Homo sapiens: one gene and its partners. The protein of the gene in region 1 interacts with the protein of each later gene in a pairwise test. Each region holds a gene or a part of one and is shown on either strand. Other genes may lie near its edges. The genes, in order: CCDC167, GLP1R, AQP9 and MEP1B.

Evidence for each region.
Region 2: the proteins of CCDC167 (region 1) and GLP1R interact in a protein complementation assay, tested with the Homo sapiens proteins (one study listed by BioGRID).
Region 3: the proteins of CCDC167 (region 1) and AQP9 interact in binary tests that used the Homo sapiens proteins (3 or more experiments, as listed by UniProt).
Region 4: the proteins of CCDC167 (region 1) and MEP1B interact in a protein complementation assay, tested with the Homo sapiens proteins (one study listed by IntAct).

Annotation. Positions count from the first base shown.
Region 1 is NC_000006.12:37,489,867-37,496,893, forward strand, and holds part of CCDC167 (coiled-coil domain-containing protein 167), read right to left. Parts: intron 1-7,027.
Region 2 is NC_000006.12:39,079,768-39,086,794, reverse strand, and holds part of GLP1R (glucagon-like peptide 1 receptor precursor), read right to left. Parts: intron 6,098-7,027; coding exon 6,056-6,097; intron 890-6,055; coding exon 722-889; 3' UTR 1-721.
Region 3 is NC_000015.10:58,169,356-58,176,382, reverse strand, and holds part of AQP9 (aquaporin-9), read right to left. Parts: intron 3,316-7,027; coding exon 3,178-3,315; intron 1,466-3,177; coding exon 1,347-1,465; intron 1-1,346. UniProt on the Homo sapiens protein: Aquaglyceroporins form homotetrameric transmembrane channels, with each monomer independently mediating glycerol and water transport across the plasma membrane along their osmotic gradient.
Region 4 is NC_000018.10:32,186,169-32,193,051, forward strand, and holds the start of MEP1B (meprin A subunit beta isoform 1 precursor), read left to right. Parts: upstream 1-3,870; 5' UTR 3,871-3,902; coding exon 3,903-3,965; intron 3,966-5,653; coding exon 5,654-5,672; intron 5,673-6,477; coding exon 6,478-6,522; intron 6,523-6,605; coding exon 6,606-6,649; intron 6,650-6,883. UniProt on the Homo sapiens protein: Membrane metallopeptidase that sheds many membrane-bound proteins. Exhibits a strong preference for acidic amino acids at the P1' position. Known substrates include: FGF19, VGFA, IL1B, IL18, procollagen I and III, E-cadherin, KLK7, gastrin, ADAM10, tenascin-C.

The DNA of each region.
Region 1 (7,027 bases):
CTTACGGCTGTGACTGTGACCGGCAAAGTAGAGACAGCCAAGGCAGAGACCTAGACGGCACAGTGTGGGGGCAGAGAGCAGGTGCCCCCTGCTGTACAATAACATTAAGAACCACCCGTGCATTATATTTACACTCAGAAAACCAAGGTCAATTTTTACATGGGGAAAAAGCACTGTGTCCCAGTCACTGAGATGAGTCAGCAGGGGGCACAGGGCTGCGATCTGCAGGGGCTTTGGGGACCCCAGGAAGTAAGAGAGGCGATGGTATGAACCCACTGTCAGCCAGCACACTGCTTCCTGGCATCTGGCCCAGCCTGAGCCCTGGGGAGGCGCTGTGTGAAGCCCTGTGTGAGCGGTCCAGGGGCCCAAGGAACAGGTTGGAGAGTGTGAAGGGTGTCCTGGGGAAAGTCTGTTCTTTACCCAGAGACCAGCAGTGGCTAAAAACTGCCTGGGGGGATGGCTGGGGAGTCTGCCTAGGCAGGGGAGACACAGAGCACAAAGGAAGAGGGGAGGAGGAAGGAAAAAGAGGCATATGAGGCAGGGAATGGAGAAGGAGCATCCCTCAGGTAGACAGGTGGGAAAGGCCCCAGGGGAGGCCTTAGGGAGTGGGACCCAACAAGTCCGTTCTTTTAACAGAAAAGCCCCGTAGTGATGCTGCCTAAATTACTGAGAACTGCTGCTTCTCAGTATCAGAGCCTGGGGCAGGGAATTGAGGCCTGCTGGGTGAAGGAGTGAGCTCAGCGAGGAGACCCATGAGACCAAAGGCCCTCCACAGAGGGGGTGTTCTGTGCAGAAGAATGAGAAGATCTAAAGTCAGCCCAGCAGTCAAGGCTGCAGAGGCTGTGTTGTAGGCCTGAGGGGTGCTGGGGACAAGGCCCTAGCCAAGTAGGGCCGTCAATCCTGCTGGCAGGTGCCAAGAGCAGAAAGGGCTTCTTCATGCCCAGCGGCAGGGGCAGGGACTCTTCCTGCAGCCTCCCTGAGAGCCCATCAGACAGATGCAGCTCCAAGCACCCGGGCCTGGAGTTCAGCAGCCCCCAGGCAGATAAGCAAACTCCCCTCTGCAGCCTGACTTGGGGAATATCACCTTATTCTGGGAGCTTTAAGGAAGTCTCCCTGGGGTCCTATATGCCATAAAACCACTGTGTTAAGAGAAACTGTAAAATTCGTGTGAAATCCCCGCGAGGCATCTTTTCAGGAGTGTAGGCCCTCTCAGAATCAGAGCCCCACGGAGGCCTCACTGGGGGCAGGGAATTTCGTGCCAGCTCATGCACAGATAACTGCCCCAGCATCCTGGCCAGGTCAGCTGATGGGGTGCCAGCTCCACGGCTAGCTGCTGTTGGGGGCCTCATATGCAGCTTTTCTGCCAACAAGCACGAGACAGTTCGAGCCACAGGCTACCGTTCACTCTATTCTCCTACTGAATGGTGTTCCCACAGAGCATCTAGACAGCCGGGGAGGTGGCTCTCTGCCCACTCCCTAATGAACCACTGTCTAGGGCCAGACCTGTTTCTGGGAAAGGGCAGAAGGCACCCCCGGGGCCTGGTGCTGGGCTACACAGGCCACTCTGCTTTCTGATTTAGGAAGCTGTTTGCTGTCTCTCCGGCTTTACTCTTGGGAGCTTCTGGCCAGCGAGTGACAGGTTTGCTACAGGGTCAGGCAGTGGTAATGGGGCATACACTGCACCTGGCTGGACAGGTCCTTACTGGGCACTCAGACCTTCCAATAAAGAGCGTGGTGCCAGGGTAGCTGAGCCGAGCCAAGTCACAGAGTCTCCAGTGTCTGCATGACAGCATGAGTGTAAGCAGCCTCTGGAAACCAAAAGTCCCAGCAAAATGGAACCACAACAGTGACAGCAGCAGCAACACTTCTGTAGTCTGTGCTGTGTGCCAGGCACTGACCTACATGCTTTACACCGATTAACTCACATAATGCTCGCAAGAACCCTGTGAGGTGGGCAGTATTATCAGCATCCACATTTGACAGATGAGGGGACTCAGACATAGGTAACTGTCCAGGGTCACACAGGCATTAAGTCCGGGAGCTGGGCAGCCACGTCTGTGCCCTTAACCACCATGCCACATGGAGAAGGCAGCGCTCATCAGCTCTGAGGGACTCCTAGCTCCTGGGCACAACCTCCACACCTTACCCCTGGAGCTGGGCAGGTTGTGGGCAGCTTCCTGTGTCTGCAACCGCCCTGCAAGGAAGGGCCCATCTCCATCTTACAGAGGTGCAAGCTCCCTTGCAGAGGTTTTCAGCACCTTGCCCAAGGTCGTGTAACTGGGAAGGGGCAGAATTGAAGCCTGAATCTGGGTTTTTCTGCTTCAGGGCTTATGCTCTTTCCACCACTTCAAGCTCTTTCTCCAAAATCCCTCATGAAAACATTCATGACAAGAGTTCTGCAGAACAGTCATTCCACATCCCAGCTGAAGCCCATCTAAGCTTGCTGATCTGGCTTCAACAGATTCTCTACTCGGAATAATCTTGTACAAGGCTCTGCTCAGTTTCTGTCTACATAACAGATACTCTCTGTGAGGGAAAGCCCTCATTGAAATTTGTTTGTTGAGACAGAGGAGACAGGAGCCCAGCGTCTGCCCTTACACTGGGCCAACTCAATGAGCTTCACAAACATCCCAGGCATTTTGCCCCAGATCACCTCGACTGTCAAAGCATCCTCCAAAATTCACACAAAACAGATCCAGTTTGGAGACGGAAAAAGGTGGGCTACTTGGGCCTGATAAACCCTTCTTTCCCCAGCAGTACCGAAGCCTTCCCTTTCACTTGCTAATTCACAGCCTGGAGAGTGGTGTCAGCTGTTTCATCTCCAGCCCCAGCAGCCTGGGAACTGGATTTTTGAAAATTCACTCATTTTCACACGTCAGGAGACCCCAGGACATTTATTATAATGGGTAAAGCAGCCAAGTGCCTGCCCAGATGGTCTCTGGCAAGAGTGCAGGGGCTTTCCATTTGGAGCCTTCAGGCTCCACAGCAAGTCACACGGGGTTCTTAGGCCTCAATTTTCCAGGTGACAAGCCTCAAACCCCAAGGGGCCCATTATCCCCACATCGTTTAAGGGATGTTTTTCTGTGGAGGCGGCTCACAGAGCTCTGTGGGGGCAGAAAAACCTCCGCCCATGGCTCCCCACATCAACAGGCCCTGTAAGGATTTCTCTCGCAGGTTGTGCAGCTGAAGACGGCAGACCTTCCCAGTTTTTAATCAATGAACAATTTTCAGGAAGAGCAGGGAGAGCCTAGGGGCTTGTCGCTCGCCTGGACACACCCCCATGCCAGGTCAGAAAGGCGAGGGAACCGCTGCAGCCCACGCGAGTCCCGACGCCTTCCCGCGAGGAGACGGAGGCCGAGCCAGCCTTGCAAGTTAGCGCCCGAGCCAGTCCGCGCCCGAAGATGCCAGCTGTCCCTGGGCCGGAAGGTGGTGTGGGGTTTGTTTTGTCTTCTTTCCCCCCGATATCTATTTTTTGATAAACTAGCAAAAGCTTGTTCATCGCTGAAAGGCTCAAAGCACTTTTCAAGAACTGGCATCCACCCCGAGCCTTATGAATTCATTAATTAAGATGCTGGCAGACAGCCACTCCACACACGCCGCCATCCAGCCGCGCTAGGTAATGAGGTTTTAGTCTCCTGACCCCCGTCAAGTGGCGCAGAGCCAGATGTAGGCTGCCGCGAGAAATCACCTGCCCAATGGCGACCTGTCGCTCTCGCCTGGCAGCAGGTGAGGCTCATTTAATGGTCAGCGGCCCCTGAACAGTCCTCTGCGTGCTGCGAGCCTTTCTCCCAGCCCCTGGCTTGGGGTTCAGGGTCCCAGCAAGGTGGCGTCTAACCGCCTGCTCTACTGTGACCTCCACTCAACTGGGCCCAGACGTCAGGGTGGAAGGTTCAATGCCTCCTCCTGCCAATCGAGCCAGTTCAGCAAATATTTATTGACAGTCCACTCACCTGCTCCTAGCCCTTGTCTCAGGAAAGTGGGAGGTTCCCCTGAGCCCTGTGCACAGCCTGCTCCAGAGCGGAGACCGTCTTCAGCCACACTTGGTGCTTCTGCCTGCCCTGCCCCACGGAGGCTACTGCAGTGGCTGGCACCATACAAATAACCACAAGCGTCAAGCCTTCCGGTGCTCTTCCTGGCCTAGGCCATTCTCTCCCCTCAGCCTACCACTTCTCATGGTCAGTGATCCTGCCTTTTTTTTTTTTTTTTTTTTTTTTTTGAGACGAAGTTTCCCTCTTGTTGCCCAGGCTAGAGTGCGATGGCACCATCTCGGCTCACCGCAACCTCCACCTCCCAGGTTCAAGCGATTCTCCTGCCTCAGCCTCCCGAGTAGCTGGGATTACAGGCATGTACCCCCATGCCTGGCTAATTTTGTATTTTTAGTAGATGGGGTTTCTCCACGTTGGTCAGGCTGGTCTCGAACTCGTGACCTCAGGTGATCCGCCCGCCTGGGCCTCCCAAAGTGTTGGGATTACAGGCGTGAGCCACCGCACCCAGCCGATCCTGCCCTCTTTTTCTGGTAAGGATTCCAGTGAATTTTCAATGACTCCCATTAGCATTTATTCCTTACAGCAGATACTGTCAACTGGCCAACACAACACCGACTCCCCACCCCTGCTCCTTTGCCCACCTCTACTCCAGAAGGTGGAAAAGCTCAGCAGATGCTCTCCCAACCTCACTGCAGCTAGGCTTGCTCATGACCCAGTTCTGGCCAATGAGACGTTCCAGAAGTCAGCTAGGAGACTCCTGGGGAAGCTTATGCTTTGTTGATAAAAGGGACAGTGTTGTTCCTTCCTCCTCCTTCCTGAGTTAAAGTTGAATATTAGACTGGAGCTGTGGCAGCTATATTGTGACCATGAGGAAACAGTGAAGAGAATGCAGAAATACCAACTCTGACATAGCTAAGCTTTTGAACCAATGCCAGTAGCCACCTACCTACAAATTTTTTTTTTTTTTTTGAGACGGGGTCTCTGTTGCCCAGACTGGAGTGCAGTGGCACGATCTTGGCTCACTGCAACCTCCACCTCCTGGGTTCAAGCAATTCTCCTGCCTCAGCCTCCCGAGTAGCTGGGATTACAGGCGTGTACCACCACTCCTGGCTAATTTTTGTATTTTTAGTAGAGATGGTGTTTCACCATGTTGGTCAGGCTGGTCTCGAACTCCTGACCTCAAATGATGCACCTGCCTCAGCCTCCCAAAATACTGGGATTACAGGCGTGAGCCACTGCACCTGGCCCCTACAAATTTCTATAAGGGGAAAAGTCTACTCCCATTTGCTTAAATCATTGAGGTCAGTTTTCTATAACTTGTAGCCAAAAGCTTTCCAAACTGATAAACTTTCTGTACTAGGGGTCAGATCCAACCAAGTTATCCACTTTAGGATACCGGCTAAGACACCACACATCTGTTAACTCAAGACCAACTGGTCACTGAAACATCTAAAGACACCAGTTTGAACAGTCCAGCTACAAAAGAAAAGTGCAATGACAAAGGAACAGCTCATTACCATCAGAGATCCGAAAACACAAACAGGTTTTACATCAGTCAAAATTCTCCTATCAGTTTAGACTGAAATTCAACCTTTCCTTCCTCCCACACAACATTAAAATCAGTACTGGGTGGGTGATTTCTCATTTGAACTATAATTTTCTTTTCTTATTAAGAATGAAATCTCAGAAGCTAAAACTCACAGTTTTTTCCAACTCTGAGATCTCATATGGTGGCAAATGAATTGGATAAAAAGACCTCAAAAGGAACCACTTTGAGGGGGAGGCTAGAGGGTGCCCTGGTTGTCCTAAGAGGTGGCTGCTTATACAGCTGGCCCAAGCCAGCCCTAAGGGTGAGTGCTGCCTGCTTGGTAATTGCTTCATTACAAGTGGAGACTGTTTGCAGGTGCTGAGATCACTCACTTGTGGGGGTTTTATTGCACTCGTCAGATTAACAAACATTTTTGATTAAATCACCACTTCATTGGCTCTGAGCACACAACTTTTAATAAGAGGACAATATCTACTGCTACTGAGCATCAGTGCACATTCAATACTCAGACCCGCTGGGGGCAACTGAGAAGCAAGGTGGGGAGACAGCCAGCCAGATGTCAGGCTTTTTCCAAGGCACACGGTTACAGATGTCAAATCTTCGAATATCCAAGCAAAAAGTAAACTTAGGGACCAAGATAGCAAATATAAACATCTACCGTGGTATGGAGAGGGTAAAACAATGGAATCTGCCCCAGTATAAGGCACTTGGAGAATACATGCCCCACCAAGTTTAAAAACGTAAAAATCCGGCCGAGTGTGGTGGCTCACGCCTGTAATCCCAGCACTTTGGGAGGCCGAGGCGGGCGGATCACTTGAGGTCAGGAGTTCAAGACCAGCTGGCCAACATGGTGAAACCCCGTCTCTACTAAAAATACAAAACTTAGCTGGGCATGGTGGTGCACGCCTGTAGTCTCAGCTTCTCGGGAGGCTAAGGCACGAGAATTGCTTGAACCCGGGAGGCTGGAGGCTGCAGTGAGCTGAGATCATGCCGCTGCACTACAGCCTGGGCAACAGAGCAAGACCCTGTCTAAAAATAAAATAAAATAAAATAAAAACTTAAAAGTCTGTCAGCCAAACAGAAGACATCTGTGATCTGTATTTGGGCCATAGTCAAGGAGTTTGTAACCCCTGGTGAAATTCAAGTCCTTCATGTTATAGATGAGTGAACGAATGCCCAAGAACGAGTTTGACTTAGCCATGGTGGAAGGATGCAAAAGAAATACAAAGGCTGGAGCTACCATGTATTGATTACCAATCCGGTGCCAGGCACGTGCTGGGCACTTAACGCAATGTCTCATTTAATCCTCACAACCACACTGTGAGGTGAGGTGCCATCTGTAGTGAGACTACAGGCTGTCTGTGAAAACACACTGGTCTCTTCCTCCATAGTAAGCAAACAGTAGCTGGCTATGTGGCCTCCTGACTGGTGAACGCATTTCCCTGATCCCTTGCAGTCAGGTGGGGTTTTAGTTCTTGCCAATGGAAAGTGG
Region 2 (7,027 bases), 1.6 Mb from region 1:
GGCAGAGGCAGGCACCAAAACAACTCAAATACCTGGAGGAGAAGCGAGCACCGTCTCAATGCTCATTCTTTCTCAACACCACCTACAGCCATTTCCAGAAACAGCTGCTGGCAGTGGCCCAAACAAAGCCCCTCAAAAAGAAACTGGGCAGTGAGATGAGGGGGCAAGATGAGGGAAATAAGCAACCCAGACACACAAACAGCTTCCCTTTGAGAGAAGACAGGGGAGGGTGGTGACCCCAAGTGATGCAAGCAGAGGAGGCTCCCGTCACTCCCGCTCTGTGTTTGGCTGAGGTTAGAAGAGCCACTTTCAGAACCACCTCCTCTTGCAAGCCCCAGTTTCACTAATAAGCCGTTGACCTTGAGTTTGAGTCTGGGGTTGATTTGCGGCTCTGTCTGGGGGAACCCCAAGGGCCTGTGGTTTCACAAGAAGCAATCCTCCTCATTTTCACAGCGATCGTTTTTCCTCTCCTCTCGCCACTGTGATCAAATTAGGAGGCTGCTTCTCCTAGGAGAAAATGTGTCCATGGTCCCAGGAGGCACTGCCCATTTACCTGTCTGATGGGTTTGGGGAGGGAAAGCAGGATGTATGTGTGTGTGTGTGTGTGTGTGTGTGTGTGTGTGTGTGTCCCTTCCTTCCCTTGTCCCTGGGAGTGTCTCTCCCACCTGGATTGGCCACCCGGCCTGCAGCAAGGACCCCAGGGAGGGCAGGCGCTGGAGTCTCAGCTGCAGGAGGCCTGGCAAGTGGCTGTGTACATGCTGCTGCCCGCCGTGGCTCCACTGCTCAGGCTGCTGGTGGGACACTTGAGGGGCTTCATGCTGCTGTCCCTCTGGATGTGCAAGTGCTCAAGCCGCCAGCGCTCCCAGCTCTTCCGAAATTCCAGCTGGACCTTCCATGGGAAAAGGAGGGAAACGAAAGCCATCATGCAAACCAATGGCTAACAAAATGGCCCCACTATTACATTAGTGGGGAAGGGAAGAAATCCACTGCATTATATTAAGAGACACAAGTCAAGGCCTTCGGGCTCCTAAATTAATATCCCAATAAAATTGTTTATTGTTGTCTCCTATTTTCTGCAGCTCCTCAGGAGAGAGATCAGCTTGATGACCTAATTGGTCTTTTCCATCTCTAAACTCTGTGATTCAGCTAAGTACCTTTTACAATCCATCACAGTATTATTTAACGGAAGAGAATGAGAGGGAGGGTGAAACACAGGGAGACAGGAGATGGGAGAGAGAAGAGAGACTCTGTCTTTACAGCGCACAGTCCAGTTTCAGCTTGGATGCTTGAGAAGGGGGACGGCAACCCCCAGCCTTCCTGGTGTCTACAGCAGACCCTTCTAAACTCCCTGAGGGCTTCTCTCCAGGCCCCAGCACCTCACAGGGGAGGAGGGAGGGAAGGAAGGAATGTGGCTGAGACGGGAAACAGCAGGGAGGAAGGGGCAGCCAGTGAGGGCTTCTCAACTGATGCCATCTAGAGAGACACTGCAGTGACCATGGGGGTGCAGCCCAGGGGAGCTCAGTCAGCCAGGATCCCTGTTGTGCTGGGCTCTGGCCTCCCCATCAGGAAAAGCCTCTCAGGAGGGCTGATGCTTGGGGGCCAGATTGTTGGGGCAGAAAGAGACAAATCCAAGTAACACTGTGGAGCCCCCATCCCTTGAGGGTTTGTGGCAATGCTGTGGCTCCCGGTGGTGGCCAGTGATTCTGGTCCCTGGAGAGGCCTAGCTGGAACCTGCCAAGCTAGTCCTGGGGGGTCTGGACTGCTCTTCTGGGTGATGTTCCCATACATTTGCTTTCCAGAGCTTCTTTGAAGTCCCCACCCTTCCCACACCAGAGTGTCTGGGGTCTGGGCCCTTCCCTTTAGGCCAAGTCACCAAGACAGCCAGATGCCAGCGGCTGTGGATAAGGGGCCAATCTCCCCACCAGCCCCTGTGCAAACAACCCTCCTCTCCTCCTTTGTCGTCCATCCAGCTATGCCCAGCAAGACGCCTGGTATGGCTGCATGCCATCCCTTAAAAGAACATTTTCTGCACTGAGTAGAGTTGAGATGGCCCAGAGGCTGCCTGCCAGGATGACGCCAGTGTCCCATGCAGCGTCATGAACCCAAGCTTGAGTGGGGGAGGGAAGGAGGCTGAGCAGACACCACCTACAGCCACCCTGTTGTATGCCAGCTCCCTGCCCGGCTGAGTCTTTGTGAAGGGAGCGCATGCTGACAGCTGGGATGGGGGCCCTGAGTCCAGTGGTGGCCCCCACTTGTGCAGCTGCCAGGAGGCCAGGCTTGTTTCATAGCCCTTCCGCTGGAGAGGGGGGGAAAGATGGTAAACTGAGGCACACCTCCGGGAAACCAGAGACCAAAGAGAGGTTTCAGGGACACCTATGGGACTTCTCAGGGTGCTGACACACAGTGTCTCCTTCTGCCCCCATCTCCTTCAGCACTTTTCCTGAACCTCTGCTGTGACCCCTGTAATCACGATTGTCCTTGAAAATCACCATATTTATTGGGCACTTACTGTATGCACAGAATTTTCCATTAATTATCTTAGCTGACTTTCACATCAACCCTGCAAAGTAGCTCCACATTTAAAGATGAGGAAACTGAGGTGCAGAGTGTTTATTTCCTCAGGTCGCTCAGCCAGGATTTGAACCTAGATCTGGCCTGATTCCAATGCCCGGCTCCTAACCCCTGGCCTCCTGCCTGCGTGGCTCTTGCAGTCCTGCTTGTCCCTGGTCCATCTCCTACCTCTCACCTGGGAGCACCTCGAGGGCTGGGACCACATCTTCTTCATCTCAGCATCCCTGAACCTAGCACAGTGCCCAGCATACAGCAGGTGCTCAGTACATGTGTTTTAAATGAACCAAATGAATGAACACATAAATGCATGAGCATCTCACATCAGGTTCCTTCTGTTCCTCAGCTATGAAAATGAACCCACAAAGACAACACCACAGATTCTGAGCACCTGGGCTGGGACTTAGGCCACCACACTTCCTCCTCCACCATCGGATTTTTATCCTCATCCCTGCCCTCGACCTCTGCAGTGCAGCACACCCCTCCTGACCTCCCTCTCCAGCAGGCACCATGCCAGCCTCAGGATTCGGGGTGAATTGGGAAGCTCATTCACCTTCATTTACGGCTGGGGAGACAGAGGCAAGGGAGGCAAAATGACTTGCCCCAGGTCACACAGCTCGGCAGTGGCAGGGCTGGGACAAGCACTCAGGGCTCTGAGTCACCTCACTGTGGCTCTCAGGCACAAGCTACAGCAAAACCACCTTCAGGCCTCCCCCTCCCTGTCCCCACTCACGCCCACCAGCAGCTGGTGCAGGCCTTGGCAGCCACACAGAACCAATATTCAAGCCATCTTTTCTCCTCAGGTCACAAGTACCTGGCATTGCCATGGCAACCCTGGGTCTGCAGAACAGCTCTTGTGGACAGAGGCCTTAGCCCCAGAGCCACATGTGTCTTTTGTGGCCCAGTGACAATGATGTATCTGTCCTTGTGCCTGGAGCAGCCAGGGCATGAGGAGTCTCAGGGTGGGTTTAAAGGAACTGGCTGGTGCTCTGAAGGGAGACAGGTTCTCCCGTTCTCTGAGCAGGGTCTCCTGGACCCCGTGGCACTAGCCTGGAAGATCCACGGGGAGATGCTAGCTGGGGTCTGTAGCCAGGCCTGGTCAGAGAGGTGCAACCCTGGTGATTCAGGATCAAGTTTTTTTCCAAGGGCAAAGAAGTACTATCCCCTTACAAAGGTGGGCCAGCCATAGGTGGTGCATGAGGAGGGAGGTGATGAGATGACTAGGCTTGGAAGGATGGAATCTGGAGAGGCAGCTGAGCCAGGGGTCAGGGGAGACTGTTCACAATGGCGGGGGGGAAGCCAAGCACACGTGTCTGCTAGTAGGGCTGCAGTGACAGTGTCAGAGGATAGAGAAGTGAGAAACGGGGACGTGGGGGGGTCAAGATGACAAGGTGGCAGCAGGGAGCCTCAGTCTCTCCCTACAGGCCTCTGCTCCTCATCCCCACACAGGATACATGCCACCCTGTCTTGCCCCCATCACCACTGGGCTGGAATGGAAAGCAGCAGAGCTCAGGGCTGGGTAGCGCATCACCCAGCTGGCTGAGAGCATTCCTGGAGGGGAGGCCACCCACAGAGCTTAGGTTTTTGCACTTCCTCGTTTGCATCAGTTTTAAAGAAACTCATTTTGAGGATATGGCAGTGGAGGAGGACCAGGACTGCCTCCTGTGGGTCACGAGCCTGTTCCCTGCCCTACCCTCCAAACGGAGCCGCTGGGTCCTCTAAGACCTGTCCCAGGAGCAGCCAGAATCCCATTTATGGGCCACTCTTTGCCTGGCGCTGCCTTCACCTCCCCAGCACCTGCTTCCCTGAGGCATTAAGTGGGATCTTGCCCCCGCCACAGCCCACTAGCTCTACCATCTTCTGTCTATTGAATTAGGCTACTCATTTCATTTTGCTGAGGCTTAACGTTCTTAGCTGTGAATTGGGGATACCATCTGCTGCACAGCATTGGATGTAATGAGACACTCTGAGCACCTTATATGCAGTAAACCCTTAAGAGACCTTGGTTTCCCTCCCATTTAGAGATCTGAGGGCCACACTTCCCACAGGTAGCCAGTTCAGCAGAAGCAGGGGGAGGCCTCAGGGACAAGGGAACATTCCCCTCCCTTCCCTTTCACCCAGCCTCATTTTCTCTGCACGGCATCCTCTGAAATTCCTTAGGCCCCTGTCTCTGGGAATCACTGAATACTGATCTAATAGTGATTGCTTACTGAGCATCTGGAGATAATGGTGTGTGTTTCTCCATGCCAAGCAGCACCTGTGAGGAGCTAGGATGGGCCTTCAGCATCCCACCTTGAAGGAAGGACTTGTTCTCTGTTCCCCTTTCGCACCTTTTTCAGACTTTCTTAATCCTCACAGGATTATCCCCACTTTGTAAATGAGCAAACTAAGTTTCAGAGTGGGCAGGTAACTTAGGCAAAGTCACACAGCTCATTAAGTGATGGGGCCCAGATCAGACCAAATAAGATGCCAAAGCCTGCATCCTTGCATCTTTTCTGCTACATCACATTGCTTCTTTGAGCCATCTCATAGCTCCTTGAAACACCCAGGTCCCCACCCACTGTCCTTTCTGCATCCCCCACACCCATAGAAAAAGACAAGCCTATTAATGTGCTGACTCCAACATCCCTGAGCTCTGGGATTCCAAAGCTGAGTACCTTGGTGGAAGGGGCCTTTTCCAGGTGCCCATGAACACAGCCATGCCCTCCTCCCAGGAGCTGACCATCTCAGGGATGGGAGGGAGGCCTGCTGTCCTGCAGACATTTTCAGGAGAGTGTGTGGGGCCAGCGAGAACCCCCTTCTCCCATCCTAGCACCAGAAAGCCACCCCCTTCCCCACAGTGAGCCAGGGCTCTTGCCTGTGTGTATGAAGAATGGGGTACTTTCTGCTTTAATGCAGAATTAATTTGAATCCTGGCTCTGCCATGCCACTATTTCCACACTTCACCTTAGCCAAAAGGCTAAGAAGCGATGTGTGCCACTATTTCCAAACCTAGGGCAGGTTCCTGACTCTTTCTGATCTTCAGTGTTTTCATGTATATATAAAAAATGGGAATATGAAATAAGAATTTTAGCAGGGTTTTTTTTTGAGGGATGTGGGGGTCATAATTAAATGAGATAGTGATTATTAAAGCCCCAAGCATGTGGCTTGGGTATGTGTGTGTTGAATCACTTTGTAAGTGACAGTCACTACCACCAAGCAAAGAGGGTCATTCAGGATCCCCTTAACATGAGTCTGGGTCTTCCTTAGGGTCACATGCCATTAGGGTATACCTGTACATGTACTTGTGTGTGTGTGTTCATGTGTGAGAGAGACCATGCACAGAAAACCAAATCTGTGGACAAGATGGCTTCTCAACCCTAGTGCCTCAGTGAGGTGAGTAGGGGGTTTCAGCTGGCAAGATTGATGGGAGTCCCCATTGTACTACTCCAGACGGGCTGATGGTACCCACCCACCAGGGTCCCCACCGTCCCTCCTCAGAGCTTACCTCATTGTTGACAAAGCAGTATAATATGGCCACCATCAGCCCCTGGAAACAAGAGTCACATCAAGAGGGAGGAAGCAGGAGGGAGGTGCCCTGCAGACTGGCCCTGGTCGGAAGCACTTTGGGACTCCATCCTCAACAACCCCCTCCCCAAATCCAGCGGCCCAGGCAGATCCAGGAATGGGGCAGTGGCTTCCCTCTCATTTCCTTTCTGAAGGAACACCAGGGTTGCACCTCTGCGACTAGGCCTGGCTACAGGCCCCAGCTAGCCTCTCCCCATGGGTCTCCCAGGCATGTGCCATGGGGTCCAGGAGACCCTGCTCAGAAGCTGCCCAGAAGCTGTAGAGATCCTACATCCAACCTCTCCTTGAGGAGGCCTGATCCAGTGAAGTACAATGACTCTGATCATGGAGAATATTCCCCACTCCAGCCCCATCTGTTCATGAAGGAGACCCAGGGCTCCAGAATTGTGTTCTGTATGTCTGCACATGTATGTAAATACACACACATGAGCCCACATGTGTGCAGGCATCTCATGACACTCTTGAGGGGCAGGCAGGGACCAGTTTTTTTGTATTTTTACACCCCCTTAGCATCATCTAATGCTAGTGGAGAGGATCAGTTCTTTTCTTTGAAACTGTGACACCGTAACTCTGGTTTTAACACCTCTGAGTCTCCTCTGTAAAGTGAGGCTAACCCTGCACATCTCCTGGGTTCTGTGAGGAGTAAATGCACAATGCATGTAAAGCACCTGGCAGGGTGCTCGCCACCAAGTAGATGGCAGCTGCAATGCCAGGCTGGTACCCAGAGCTACATCCAGGAAGGCTTCTTGTCCCATGTGCTTACAGAGAAGACTGGCCCAGGTATTGGGACACCTGGGGATACTAGTTCTGGCTCTGCTCCAACTAGGTGACTTTGGGCAGGGATCACCCCTCCAGGTCCCAGTCTTCCCACCTTTTCCATCTGCATGATGCA
Region 3 (7,027 bases), on another chromosome or scaffold:
CCACGCATGGCTAATTTTTGTATTTTTGGTAGAGGCAGGGTTTTGCCATGTTGCCCAGGCTGGTAGTGAACTCCTGGGCTCAAGTGACCTGTCCACCTTGGCCTCCCAAAATGCAGGGAGTAAGATGTGAACCACCGTGCCCAGCTCTGTCTAATTATATCTTATTTTGCATTGTTTCCTTGTTCAATGCTCTTCAACTAGATTCAAAATTTCTGGGCAGATACTGCTTACAATGCGTTTTTCTCATATTATTCTTTTTATCCTCATAAGTAACTTCATGAAGGCTCATATTATCCCCATTTTACAAGTGAATAACTTGCGACCCAAAAAGTTCAGTACTTTGCTGAAGCCACGCAGGAAGTTGGAGGCAGAACAGCTATTTTAATTCAAGCATTCAGACTCTGCATCTTGGATCTTTACAACTCACATTTACTCGTCAGTCTTTCAAGCTCCAGACAAAGGGCCAAGCACATAGTGAGTTTTTAATGAACACTTGTTGCCTGTTTGATTTATTGATGAAAGTGGAAAGTAAAAAAGCTGAGGACATGAGGGCATAGTTTTTCATCCATACATTGAATGGAGGTGGGCATAGCTGATGAACTGGAAGATCCATTTTATACACATGCCCATTCTGATCTGCTCCACTGTATAAGTCCTGATCATAGAGGAAGAACTTAGAGATACTGAAAAATATAGCCTTCCTTCCACTGCCCTGACCAAGATAACCAGCAGCCTTCTTGGGACACAGTAAGGGAAGAAGAGTCTTTTGAGTTGACAATGTTAGTCCTGCCATAAGCTGACCAAATAGGTGTGCTATTGGTTACACCACAGTATGCTTGGGTGCTAGAAGCTTGTTTAAAGGTCAATAAGCAGAGATACTTCTAGCCACCTTGAGAGTTTAAATAAATAAACCTATGCACATGGTGAGACAGAGAGGATTGATGATCCCCTAGGCTCAACTACCACCCTTCACAGTCTTTGATTTGAAATAGAAATATCTTCTCTTGTGGCCTCCACACTTAGACCACTTGTTCAAAAGAGTCAATAGTGAAGTGAAGTCCATTTGTGTCTACAGGGATTGAAATGTTTAGTCATTCACTCTTTTCTGGATCTCAACTAATGTTAAACAAGTGTACGTATTAAAGAGGAAGGAGAAAACTTTTCTGGTGGTATCAGCTCCTTGTAAAGGTAAAACGATTATCAAGAAAGCTTGGGTTATGCCCAGCAACCTCTGCCTTTGGAAATATAATCTCTCCTTTCTGATTGGTCTCTAATTCTCCAATGCATTCCCCTTATGAGAGCATATCTTTTCACCAAAGTTAAGTCTTTGTTGAATCTACACTTACTTGATCTGCAAATGCGTTCGCCAGAGATAGATACGGAGCTGGGTATGTTGCAAAAATGTGTGCTGTTGCATTTTCTCCCACGATCAGCAGTTTTCCACCAGCAAAGGACATAAGTCCATCTATGAAAGAGAAAGCTCTGGCACATTAGTGTTCCCTGGGAAGAGTTGAAGGAGGCCTGTGCCAAGCCTTGTGCTAAACAACCAGTCACTCAGATTGAGCTTGGCATAGCCATGTCATTTGTCTCTCTCTACTTCCGAGGAATGATAGTTTTAGAGATGCCCAGGTGAATCCCAGGATGGAGGGTCAAAGGAAGAAGGCCTTTGGCCTCTCTGAATGGCCCACTGCAAACTTGGACAAATTATTCTTCGATAGGGTCCTGGGAATGAGTTCTCTTTTGGGGGAATTCTTGGAGTTTTCGAGGTCAACTGTAAGCCAAAGTGGGGCTTGGTCTTGCTCTAGGAATAATTTATAATTCCCAGAGGGCTCTCAGTAACCCCTAATACCACTCCAGAATTTGAGGGTGTTGCAGTATACTGAAGATGCCCTTAGAGCCAGGGGTATTGCAGCCACTGCCACAGCTAGCACTGACCCCAGGCCATTCTTGCCACAGCAGCGGGCTCTGAATTTCCTGTGTGTTCTTGAATTCCATTTTAGCCCTTTTAGACTCTAATTCTCAGAGAGACACTCTATGGGGAAAAGTCCCTTTCCATAACCTATTTCTTTTCCTTTTTTTTTTTCTTTTTTTTCTTCTTTGGAGACAGGGTCTTGCTCTGCTGCCCAGGCTGGAGTGCAATGGCATGATCCTGGCTCACTGCAGCCTTGATCTGGGCTGAAGCAATCCTCTTATCAGCCTCCTGAGTAGCTGGGACTACAGATGTGAGTTACCACACCTGGCTTATTTTTAATTTTTTTTTCTGAAGAGACGAGGTATCCCTATGTTGCCCAGGCTGGTCTTGAACTACTGGGCTCAAACGATCCTCCCACTTATGCCTCCCAAAGTGTTGGGATTACAGGCATGAGCCACCACACACCCAGCCCTCCATGACCCATTTCTATAAGGCCTGGTTCATAAATTCTACTTCCTAAGGTCTTCAGTTTGGGTAAGTCATAATGTATTAAGGCTTACCTTGGGTTAGAAGGAAGGAGCTGCTTTAACAGTTGATTTCATGGGAACACCAAGGTGTTTTAGTTTGAAAGGCCTCGAGAGTCATCTGATTCAATTCCCTCATTTTCCAGAGGAGGAAACTGAGGCTAGTCAGATCAGATGACTTATTTAAGTTGCACAGGTATTTACTGAACAGCTAGAGCTAAAGTCTGGTCTTCTATGACCAATACTGTGTTTTTCCCAAGGACTGTTGCAGAGTGGAAGCCCTGGCTGTTTGATAGAAGGGCAATGAGGCTCCCACCCAGCCCACATCTCTGCTGTGTCTCTTCCTTCAAAGACATCTTCCCAGAGTCCTTCTCTCAATACTTACTGGTCACACCTTTGTCACCAGAAAACACCTCTTTTCCCAGCCAAATCAGAGACAGCAGTGGGGAAGCCACTGGCCTACTGCTTGTTGTATGGATGTGTATGTTGCAGTGCTGGCTTGGCACAAAGACAGGCTTCCTTTAAGTTCTGCTCCCCATTTAAGATATGACCATTTTCATTAACAGGATTCACGAATTTGCTGGAATGGTAATATGGCCTCATTTTCTCAAATTTAGAACTTGCTGTCACTTGTAGAATGCTTCCCGTCCTTGCTTTTTCTCGCCTGTGCCTACCAAGTAATTCTGACTTTCAAATTATGCCCAGCTCTTCCTAACCTTAGGACTCAGGGACTTTACTCACCATAGTAAATGCCAAAGACGGTTGCAGCCCCCACAAAGGCTCCCAAGAACTGGGCTCCCACATAAAATGGCAATTTGAACCATTTCATCCGTCCAAAGAGACACATTGCTAAAGACACAGCTGGGTTGATGTGACCACCTGCAAGGGAAGATTGGAGAAGTGAGAGGGCAGGTTAGGAAGAAGAATATACAGAAAACCATCTAGAGACCTCAGGTGGAATTCAGTCTTCTAGGCAGAGAACTACTGCCTATGAGGAGAAAGAGGGGTGTGTATGCACGTGAAAGAGAGAGTGTGTATCTGAGCAGGGAGAGAAGGAGGAATGATCATTTTCATGGCATCCTTGGATAACAGTTTAGAATGTTTATCTTGATGAAAAGAGAGTCAGGTATAAAAAGAAACTTGATGTGCTCAAGTGGCTGTTTTTTTAATAGGCTTGAATCCCTCTATCTATAAAGCAGTCACCCCAAACAGACTGATGTAGCTATTAACTTCGATATCTTTTAAAAGTCAATATGCTTATCCAATATATGTATAAGATTTAAATCTATATCTAGCAGTTCCTCCGGCCATGCCCAGAGGATATAAAAACAAGCTCAAAAGAGATGTATCTTTAAAGGAAAATGACTGTGGGTTGCTGAGGGTGGGGGCATAGTTGATTTTGAGGTGGTCACAGTGTGAGTGGCTTGTTCTCAGTTCCTCTGCATAAACAATGCATTTCTCTCCTATACAGAAATGTAGCAACCCTTTCCTGAGCCCAGCCCAAGCTCCAGCTAGAGAAATCGGCTTCCTTGACTTGCATCCAGCCATAAAATCAAATAGAGAGTTTGCTCTGTGGTTGGTCTCTAACATCCCCAGCTGGCTTTGCTAGTAACAACAACAGCAGCATTTATCAAATACTTACCAGACACCATTGTAGGGTTAGTAGGTGGATTTGATCCTCTTAAGAACCCAATGAGATGAGTACTACTCCAGTTAACGGATGAGAAAACTGAGGCATGGACGGAAAGTAAGTTTCTTAAGGCTACATGGTCAGTAAATGGAAGAACCAGGATTCAGATTCAGGTTTATCTGAATTCTAGAGCCTGTGTTTTCTGCTATACCACTTCCAGCCCATCTTCACCGTGTTTATAAAGGCTTCTCTGCTTTTGTGGGCAGAAAAATAAATAAAGAATTTAAAAAAATTGTCTGAGCATATAGGCTCACTTCCTAGTGAAAACAGATGTTCATTTGAGGAATACAGATGACATTTTTTGTGGAGGGGGAATCAGAGACACCACATTGAGATGTGGACTTTCAGGCTGTGGCCTTGGTCGTAAACAAAGGAGGGATGATGGTGGTGATGATGATGATGATGATGATGATGATGATGATCCTGCACAGAACCAATAGGTGCACTTGTTTCCAGAAGCCTCTACCACTCCCTGTGGAGAAAGCTATGCTTTTTCCAAGTCTCCAGGGCAAAATGGACTTGCAGTGGGTGGGGGATTCTGGCTGCTGGCTAAGCCACAAGAGTCCTTTCTTCACCTGCCCCTGCCACTCAGTGGCTACAATGAGCAAGAAAATGCCAGTGTATTGAAGCACAGATGATTTCCTAAAGCCTTATAAACACTTCAACTGTTGTGTTTTCCTTTCAAATCCAGGAAAGCCACAGTTCTGGAGACTAGCAGTACACCTTACCAGGGAAGGCTAGAAACAGGGGTTAGGAGGGAGGAGGGGGCACACAGGGCAGTGGGAAGTTTCTCTTCTCCCAGAGGCTTGCTGCAGAGTAGCTGCCTCCAGCTGCCTGGAGGTAGCCATTGTGAAAGGAAAAGGGGTGCGGGGCCAGGTGCAGTGGCTCATGCCTGTAATCCCAGCACTTTGGGAGGCTGAGTTGGGTGGATCACAAGGTCAGGAGTTTGAGACCAGCCTGCCCAACATGGTGAAACGCCGTCTCTACTAAAAATAGAAAAAATTAGCTGGGCGTGGTGGCAGGCACCTGCATTCCCAGCTACTCGGGAGGCTGAGGCAGGCTAATTGCTTGAACCCAGGAGGCGGAGGTTGCAGTGAGCCGAGATGGTGCCACTGTACTCCAGCCTGGGCAACGAGCGAAACTCCGTCTCAAAAAAAAAAAAAAATTAGTTGGGCGTGGTGGCTCGCACCTGTGATCCTGGCTACTCAGGAGACTGAGGCAGGAGAATTGCTTGAACCCAGGAGGCAGAAGTTGCAGTGAGCAGAGATTGCGCCACTGCACTCCAGCCTGGGCGACAAAAACAAACAACAACAACAACAACAAAAAACCAAGGGGGCCGTAAGTGATCACCTCCAGTCCAACTCCCTTGAGTTTAGTCTACCAATGGGAGATTTCTTTGTTTAACAATTTCGTCTTCCAAAATAAAATTTCCCATAAGTAGGTTTCTGTTTGTTGGCTCCTCCTAAGCATCCTGAGGCTGGAACTATTATTTACCTTGGGTCTCACATGATGCAAGGCACTTAGTAGGTATTCAATATAAAAGCTGAAGAAATAGGCAGGGCATGGTGGCTCACGCTTGTAATCTCAGCACTTTGGGAGGCCAAGGCGAGTGGATCATGAGGTCAAGAAATCAAGATAATCCTGGCCAACATGGTGAAACCCTGTCTCTACTAAAAATACAAAAATTTGCTGGGCATAGTGGCATACGCCTGTAGTCCCAGCTACTTGGGAGGCTGAGGCAGGAGAATCGCTTGAACCTGGGAGGCGGAGGTTGCAATGATCTGAGATTATGCCACTGCACTCCAGCCTGGTGACAGAGCAAGACTCCATTAAAAAAAAAAAAGAAAGTTGAAGAAATAATCTGAGGCCTTATTTAGATAGCTCAGACTACAGTGATCTACAGAGAAAAATAGTTGTTTGGGGGTTAGAGAGGGTATGTCTGGAAGGGTGCTTTGCAAAGCAATGAGGAAAAGGGCTGGAGAGGAGGCAGAAAGGTTCAGAAAGAGAGGTGGACAAGTGGCACCCTGATGCCTCTGGTTAGAGGCCAAGTGGCTGCTAGAAATTTCTCCCCGCAGAGATGAGTGGTCACCCTGGCTTATCACAAGGACAAGGCAGAGCAGTGTATTGGAAAGAACATGAGAACTAGAGTCAGAGAGTCCTGCACTCAACTCTTGGCTTTGCCGAGGTTGCTGGGACAATCAGATTATTCACATAAAGGGCCCGCGGGCACAGCTGGATCCCACAGGGCACAAGATGAAAGTCTTAGGTGAGCAGAGGGAACCCCTTCAGTGTTCTGTTCTATGCAAATCCTCTCCTCCTCGCCACCCATACACAATCCTGTGATCAAGATAACCCTATATTTTGTAATGAAAGCAAGTCTATTTGCTTTTTCAATAAGTTTATTTTAGTCATAAAATACTACATCAATAGCAATTGCCATTAGACAGCCTAAATGCTTTGTGCAGGATGCTACATAATTAGGGTATTATGACCTCTGACTGACTGGATTTGACTGGAACATTCCCAGGGGAGCAGGATGCTGTAACTTCTTTACAATAAGGTGATGTTTTATATTTAAAAGACAAATATCTGCTGACCTCACTAGTCGGTGACCACAAAATAGGATCCCATTCACATTTATGCTCAGTATAAATTGGTTACTTTTGGAATCTTCAAGCAGACCTTACAAGCCAGTATGTGCCCACAAACCAGTATGTTAGCTGCAGCCACGATGAGAAAGTCACCTCCCACACACAATCTTCCCCTATTCCTGCACCTGCCAAAGCTGATACTGATGCTGTTGTCCACACAGATGTCATGATGGGCCAGTGTGTTGTGCTGCATGTTCCCAAAATGTTCCCAAAGCCACCAGTCCTTAGGGAGCCTGAACTGTGCTAGATT
Region 4 (6,883 bases), on another chromosome or scaffold:
TCATAGAAACAGCTGTGCTTAATAAATGTCTTTCCTTTTCTTTTTTTTTTTTGAGACAGAGTTTCACTCTTTTCAGCCAGTCTCGAGTACAATGGTGCGATCTCAGCTCACTGCAATCCCTGCCTCCCGGGTTCGAGCAATTCTCCTGCCTCAGCCTCCCAAGTAGCGGGATTACAGGTGCCCACCATCACTCCCAGCTAATTTTTGTATTTTTAATAGAGACGGGGTTTCGCCATGTTGGCCAGGTTGGTCTTGAACTCCCGACCTCAGGTGATCTGCCCCACCTTGGCCTCCCAAAGTGCTGAGATTGCAGACTTGAGCCATTGTACCCAGACTGTCTTTATTTTTCTATAATCATACTTTTTTCTTTTTCTTTTAAAATTTTTATTTATATATAATTGTTTATATTTTGGGAGTACATATGATGATCTGATACCTATATACAATGTATAATAATCAAATTAGGGTGATTAGGGTATCCATCAACTCAAACATTTATCTTTTCTTTGTGTTGGGAACATTTCAAGTAATCTTTTCTTGCTATTTAAAAATATATAATAAATTGTTAGCTATAATTTACCTACTGTACTATCAAATACTAAATCATTTATTTTATCTAACTATACTTTTGTACCCCTTAACCAACTTCTTTTCATCTCCTCCTCCCTTCCCTTCCCTTCCTAGCCTCTGGTAACTACCAATCTACTTTCTACCTCCATGAGATAAATTTTTTTTTAGCTTCCAGATATGAGTAAGAACATTCGATATTTGTTTTTCTGTGCCTGGATTATTTCACTTATAATGACCTCCAGTTCCATTCATGTTGCTGAAAGTGTCAGATTTCTTTTTTATGGCTGAGTAATATTCTATTGTGTATATAGACCACATGTTCTTTATCCATTTATATGTTGACAAATACTTAGGTTGATTCTATATCTTGGGTATTACAAATAGTGCTGCAATAAACGTGTGAGTGCAGATATCTCTTCAATTTACTGATTTCCCTTCTTTTGGATATATCCTCAGCAATGGAATTGCTGGATCATATGGGAGTCCTATTTTTAGTTTTTTGAGGAACCTCTATACTGTTTTCCATAATATCTCTACTACTTTACATTTTCACAGTGTACAAGTCTTCCTGTTTCAACACAACCTTTCCAGAATTTGTTATCTTTCGTTTTTTTTCTTTTATAATAGCCATTCTAACTCAGGTAAGATGATATCTTATTGTGGTTTTGATCTGCATTTCCCCGATGATTAGTGGTGCTGAGCATTTCTTCATATAGCTATTGGCAATTTGTTTGTCTTTTTTGAGAAATATCTGTTCAGGTCTTTTGCTCATTTTAAAATCAGATTATTTGTTTTTTTTGGTATTGAGTTGTTTTAGTTCTTTATATATCTTGGTTATTAATTCCTTGTCAGATGGATAGTTTGCAAACATTTTCTCCCACTCTGTGAGTTGTTTCCTCACTTTGTTGAGTGTTTCCTTTGTTGTGTAGAAGCTTTTTAGCTTAATGTAATCCCATTTGTCTGTTTTTGCTTTGGTTGCTTGTATCTTTGAGGTCTTACCCCCCAAAAATCTTTGCCCAGACCAATATCCTAGAGCATTTCTACCATGTTTTCCTTGAGTAGTTTTATAGTTTCAGGTCTTACATTTAAATCTTTTTTTGTTTGTTTGTTTCTTTGTTGGGTTTTTTTTTTTTTTTTGGAGACAGAGTCTTTCTCTGCCACCCAGGCTGGAGTGCAGTGGTGCGATCTCGGCTCACTGCAACCTCCGCCTCCTGGATTCCAGCAATTCTCCAGCCTCGGCCTCCAGAGTAGCTGGGATTACAGCTATGCACCAGTGCAGTGCACCACCATGCCCAGCTTATTTTTGTATTTGTAGTACAGACAGGGTTTCACCATGTTGGCCAGGCTGGTTGCGAACTCCTGACCTTGTGATCCGCTTGCCTCGGCCTCCCAAAGTGCTGGGATTCCAGGTGTGAGCCACCGTGCCCAGCCACATTTAAATCTTTAATCCATTTTGGGTTGATTTTTGTATATGATGAAAGACAGAGATCTATTTTTATTCTTCCGTATATGGATATCCAGTTTCTCAGCGCCATTTATTAAGAGACTGTCCTTTCCCCAGTGTAAGTTCTTGGCATCTGGTTTCTCTGGGTTCTCTACTCTGTTCCATTGGTCTGTTATAATAATTGATATTTTAGGTTCCCATTCACATAGATGTCAAAAATTTAATTGCGGCTAATTCAGGATTCACATTTTACCTTTAGGCTTGTGCCTAACCTTAATTAACAGTCCCAATGCATTGGGAAGGTCCCTTATGATCCCTGATGTCATCTATCCTCACAGGCATCCTCTAAAATATCAGTCCCTCTGTCTGGTCCTTATTTGTGATTCTGTGCAGCCTGCAATGGAGACATCCTTATTCCTATCCACATGGCTCTTCAGGCATGACAGCTTTTTCTGATACTTCTATGCTTCCCTTGGCCCCAGGAGTTATTCTCCTCTTCCCAAGATGTGCCTTCTTCTGTAGAGTCCCTTTGCTTCCTTGTAGCTCTAGCCAAGAAACAGGACCATTTGATTTTGGATCCTATAATATATCTAGGGGATCTCAGGGATCAAGTGAAGAACTGACTATAACTACAGTTTTCAGTTTTCCCATTTAATTCTCATCCTACCCTCATAGGGTGGGAAGTGCTGGCTTGTACTCAGGAAGCAACCTCTCAAACTCCTTGTCTATGCTACATGTCTCTTGATAGTCTTCCTATTAGCACAAAATGGGGTGAAGGCTAAGCTGGAGAGGGGAAGGGGAAACTAGAAAAAAATTAGGTTTTTTTTTTTTTTTTGAGATGGAGTGTCATTCTGTTGCCCAGGTTGGAGTGCAGTGGTGTGATCTCGGCTCACCGCAACCTCTGCCTCCCAGGTTCAAGTAATTCTCCTGCCTCAGCCTCTCAAGTAGCTGGGATTACAGACATGCACCACCACACCTGGCTAATTTTTGTATTTCTAGTAGAGATGGGGTTTCACTGTGTTGGCCAGGTTGGGCTTGAACTCCCGACCTCAGGTGGTCCACCCACCTTGACCTCCCAAACTGCTGGGATTACACATGTGAGCCACCATGGCCAAAAATTAGTATTCAAAAAATATTATCCTGCATCTTAAGTAAGTTGAATATGAAGCCATGGGAACTGAGAGAACAGGTTGTTTCTAAAGAGAAATTATCCCAAGAAAAGAAGGAAAAAGTGAGAAAGAATTAAGAGATGGATTGGGAACATTATTTTATTAGAAAATCAGTGACCATTCCTACTTTTATGACCCATGTCCCACCAGTGTTTGCTTGATGGGAATTTTTAGGGATGAGATACATTGCTATGTTACTACTCTATATGTGAATAACCGGTGTGCCTGATTTCTAGCACATTAATGGATTTTATAACTCAATAAATTATAGGCACTCAATAATTTTTATTAAATGAGTGAATGATAAAAAGCAGTGGACATAACTGGATATATTAAAGCAGCATGGGGCTATATGAGAGGAGGAGTTTCATAAGATCAAGATTAAAAATTAATTTGATATATATATTTTTTGCTTAAGTGGTGTTTACTAGTCTAAGGACCAGTACACATACATTAGAGAATGTATTCATTAAGAAGTCTCAGCCAGGCACTTAATTGTTGACACAGGAAAAAAAAAAAAAAGCCAACAAACCAACTCCGCAGAGCTGTGTTAAAAATACTGGACTTTCATCCCTTGATTGGAGGTATTATTACAGCATCAAGCTGACCTGCAATATGGATCATTGAGATCAAAGGCTATAAATTATAATGTTTGCCTTTAAAGAAGTCAATTCAACCCTGAATGTCATAGTTAGCTACTTTCAACTGGAAGCTACAACATGGATTTATGGAATCTGTCTTGGTTTCTGTTCTTGGATGCTCTTCTCGTGATTTCTGGCTTGGTAAGGAAACAGTATATAGAAGATAATTTAAAAATTTTGGGGCAGTTGATATTGATTGTTAAAGAACAAGTGTTTTTTTTTTGTTTGTTTTTTATACATCTTGAAATGTTGATCTCAAATGAGTGTTTCTTCTTGGAGATTAGGGGTGGGCAGTGTGTAGGGAGTGACAAATAGCCACACCAGAGTAGAGACATTGATATAAAGTTATGTTTTCCTTTCAGTTTCATCATTGTGTAACAAGTTTTCTTTTGATGAGATTATAAATGTGTATTTTGAAAATCATTCCATTTTTACTGCTGAATGAAATGCAGATTGCTGCACAGTAACTTGAGACATGAATGAGTGTCACAGGCACCGTCAGTACTTACAAAGTTTTATAACGTGGTATTTCTCTTATGCTTCTTCATCAGTTTAGACTCATCCTTCTACAGTTTGGACTAATCTTTTCTATCAGGTAGTTTGTATCACAAACCAACCCAAGGTTTTAAATGAAGTTTCAAATGGCTAGTGGAAAACCTTCAGTTGTTATTTTAAAATAACAATTATTATATTGGGGTGATATTCTATGAATAGGAACTAGAACATTGCAAACAAGAGATACAGATGAATACATGTTAAAGTGTAATTAGGAATAAATCCTTGATAATTTTATTCTGTAGGTGCACTGGCATTCCTCTATGAGTGTATGCCTGTGTGTGGTTATAGTGTGAAACATGCAAAGCACTTGTTAATGTCAAAAATGATGGTAACCATCCATCCAGTTCATTCCCACATTTTGTTAAACGCTCCAAATGATTCTAGTATTTAGATATGTAAGCTGTATTTGAATAAAATTGTACTTTACACTTTTGTGACAATTTATTATAGCTTACAATGAGCCTTCTTTCACATTATATACTGTAACCCTCACAATACCCATGCAAAGCAGGTACTGACCATATCTTATGGATAGTCTGAGTACCTGGAAGGTGAACTGAATTACCCTTAGTTAGTAGAACTGGTAACATAACCCAGACAGTCCTATGAGCTTTTTAATTCAATCACACTAAGACATTTCTCAGGTTTACTTAGTTGTTTTTTTTTTTTTTCCTTTGGACATGTAGTCTGAGTTTCATTGACCATTTGTGGAGAATCTATTTTCAGAAAAAAAATTAATCACAAAATGTACCCATTGTTTTTCTTAAATATTTGTATTGTCTTTGAAGGCAGAATTATTCTGGGAGAAACATGAATGCAAAATAACTTGATTAATGAGTCTTGAATAACATTTCTTTTTAAAGAATTGTTATAAATTACAGTATTATTTCAACATTGAGAATAAATTATTTGGTTTTTCAAACATTGCTCCATGAATGCTTTAGAAAATCGTGTGTAAAGTGAGCACTTATTTGAGAGCTAGAGTCTTATGTTCTGCCTTTTCCCCCCCAATTTTTGAAGTTGGTTTCTTGTTTCCTTCACCTTCAAATTGATTTAACAGGCAGTTTCATTTTCCATATGAAATGAGAAGACCCTTTGGTCAAAAAGTCATCTTAAACTTCAATTTAGCCATCCTAAATACATGTCAGGAAGTAATCCATAATATTAATGACAAAACAAACAAACAACAAATGGTTAGATATAAACTGAATCCAAGAAGACCATTCCTGGGCATTATAATAATATGTTTTGTTTATGTGTTTATTTCCCAGGCAACTCCAGAAAACTTTGGTGAGTCTATTTTGAGTTTTGTTCTAGGTTATAGAGAACCTAGGACATATTTAATGCTAAACATCATACATAATTACATATGCATAATTGATGCATAATTGCATTGAACTTTGATCTAATACTGGATTCTTTTGATTTATGGAGGGACATTTTATTGTCCATGTTCCAGGCTTCATATGCCCAGCAAAGAAATAGATGGTATAGGAAAGGCCAAGCACAGTGACTGACACATAGACATCCCATAAATGCTTGCTATTATTGTTTTTGTTATTTTGTGTCAAATCAGATGGACCTAATAATAACAGTCTACTCAGTATTCACTTGCATACTCGGAGATTTGGCCATATTATATACACCTTTACAACTTAAAATAGTAATTCAAGTTTAACTTAAGAATTTTGCTTGAAAGTTCCAAGGTATACTACTAGCAAGTGATATACATGTATGAGTAGATTGGGCTAGTTTGACCAAATTTAATCATTTGTTTGCTATTTAATCTAGTCTTCTAGTCTTTCAAATTATGCTTAATAATATATGGAGCAACCAATTTCTTATTCCCGAAGTCATTTGACATTCAAGGAATGTCGATAGGACAGAATACATACATAAAAGCTCTTTAGAGCCCAACCTGGCTCATAGGAGATTCTTAATCAATCAATCAATCAATCAATGTATGTTGAGTCTGAATCTAGTAGTCACCTGAGGCCAAAAGAAACTTGCTTAGTTCTGATTATATAAATGATAAAGGTTTTCTCCTTTTATAAACATAATGTTCAATTTTTTGTTGTTGTTGTTTTAATCAAAGATGTAGATGGCGGAATGGACCAGGACATATTTGATATCAATGAAGGTTTGTGGATTTTTTTTACATAATCTCTTAAGTAGAGAGTTTGAATCCAATTTGCTAACATGAATTTTTATCTTTACTCTTAGGTTTGGGACTGGATCTTTTTGAGGGTGACATCAGACTTGATAGGGTGAGTTGAAACAGTATAAGGAAGAATCTTCCATTAACCACTGCAAGCCAAATTCAGAGTAACTGAGAAAGATTAGACAGCATGAACTTTGTTAAGCCTAACTATCTCTAAGGGTGCAGAATCATGGTGACACATTTATTCAATGAATATATTATACTCAAAGAAATGCATATAATTGTGTCTTCATCTTTCATTACTCATATTTCTGTGTGGTTCAAGCCACCATAACTCATT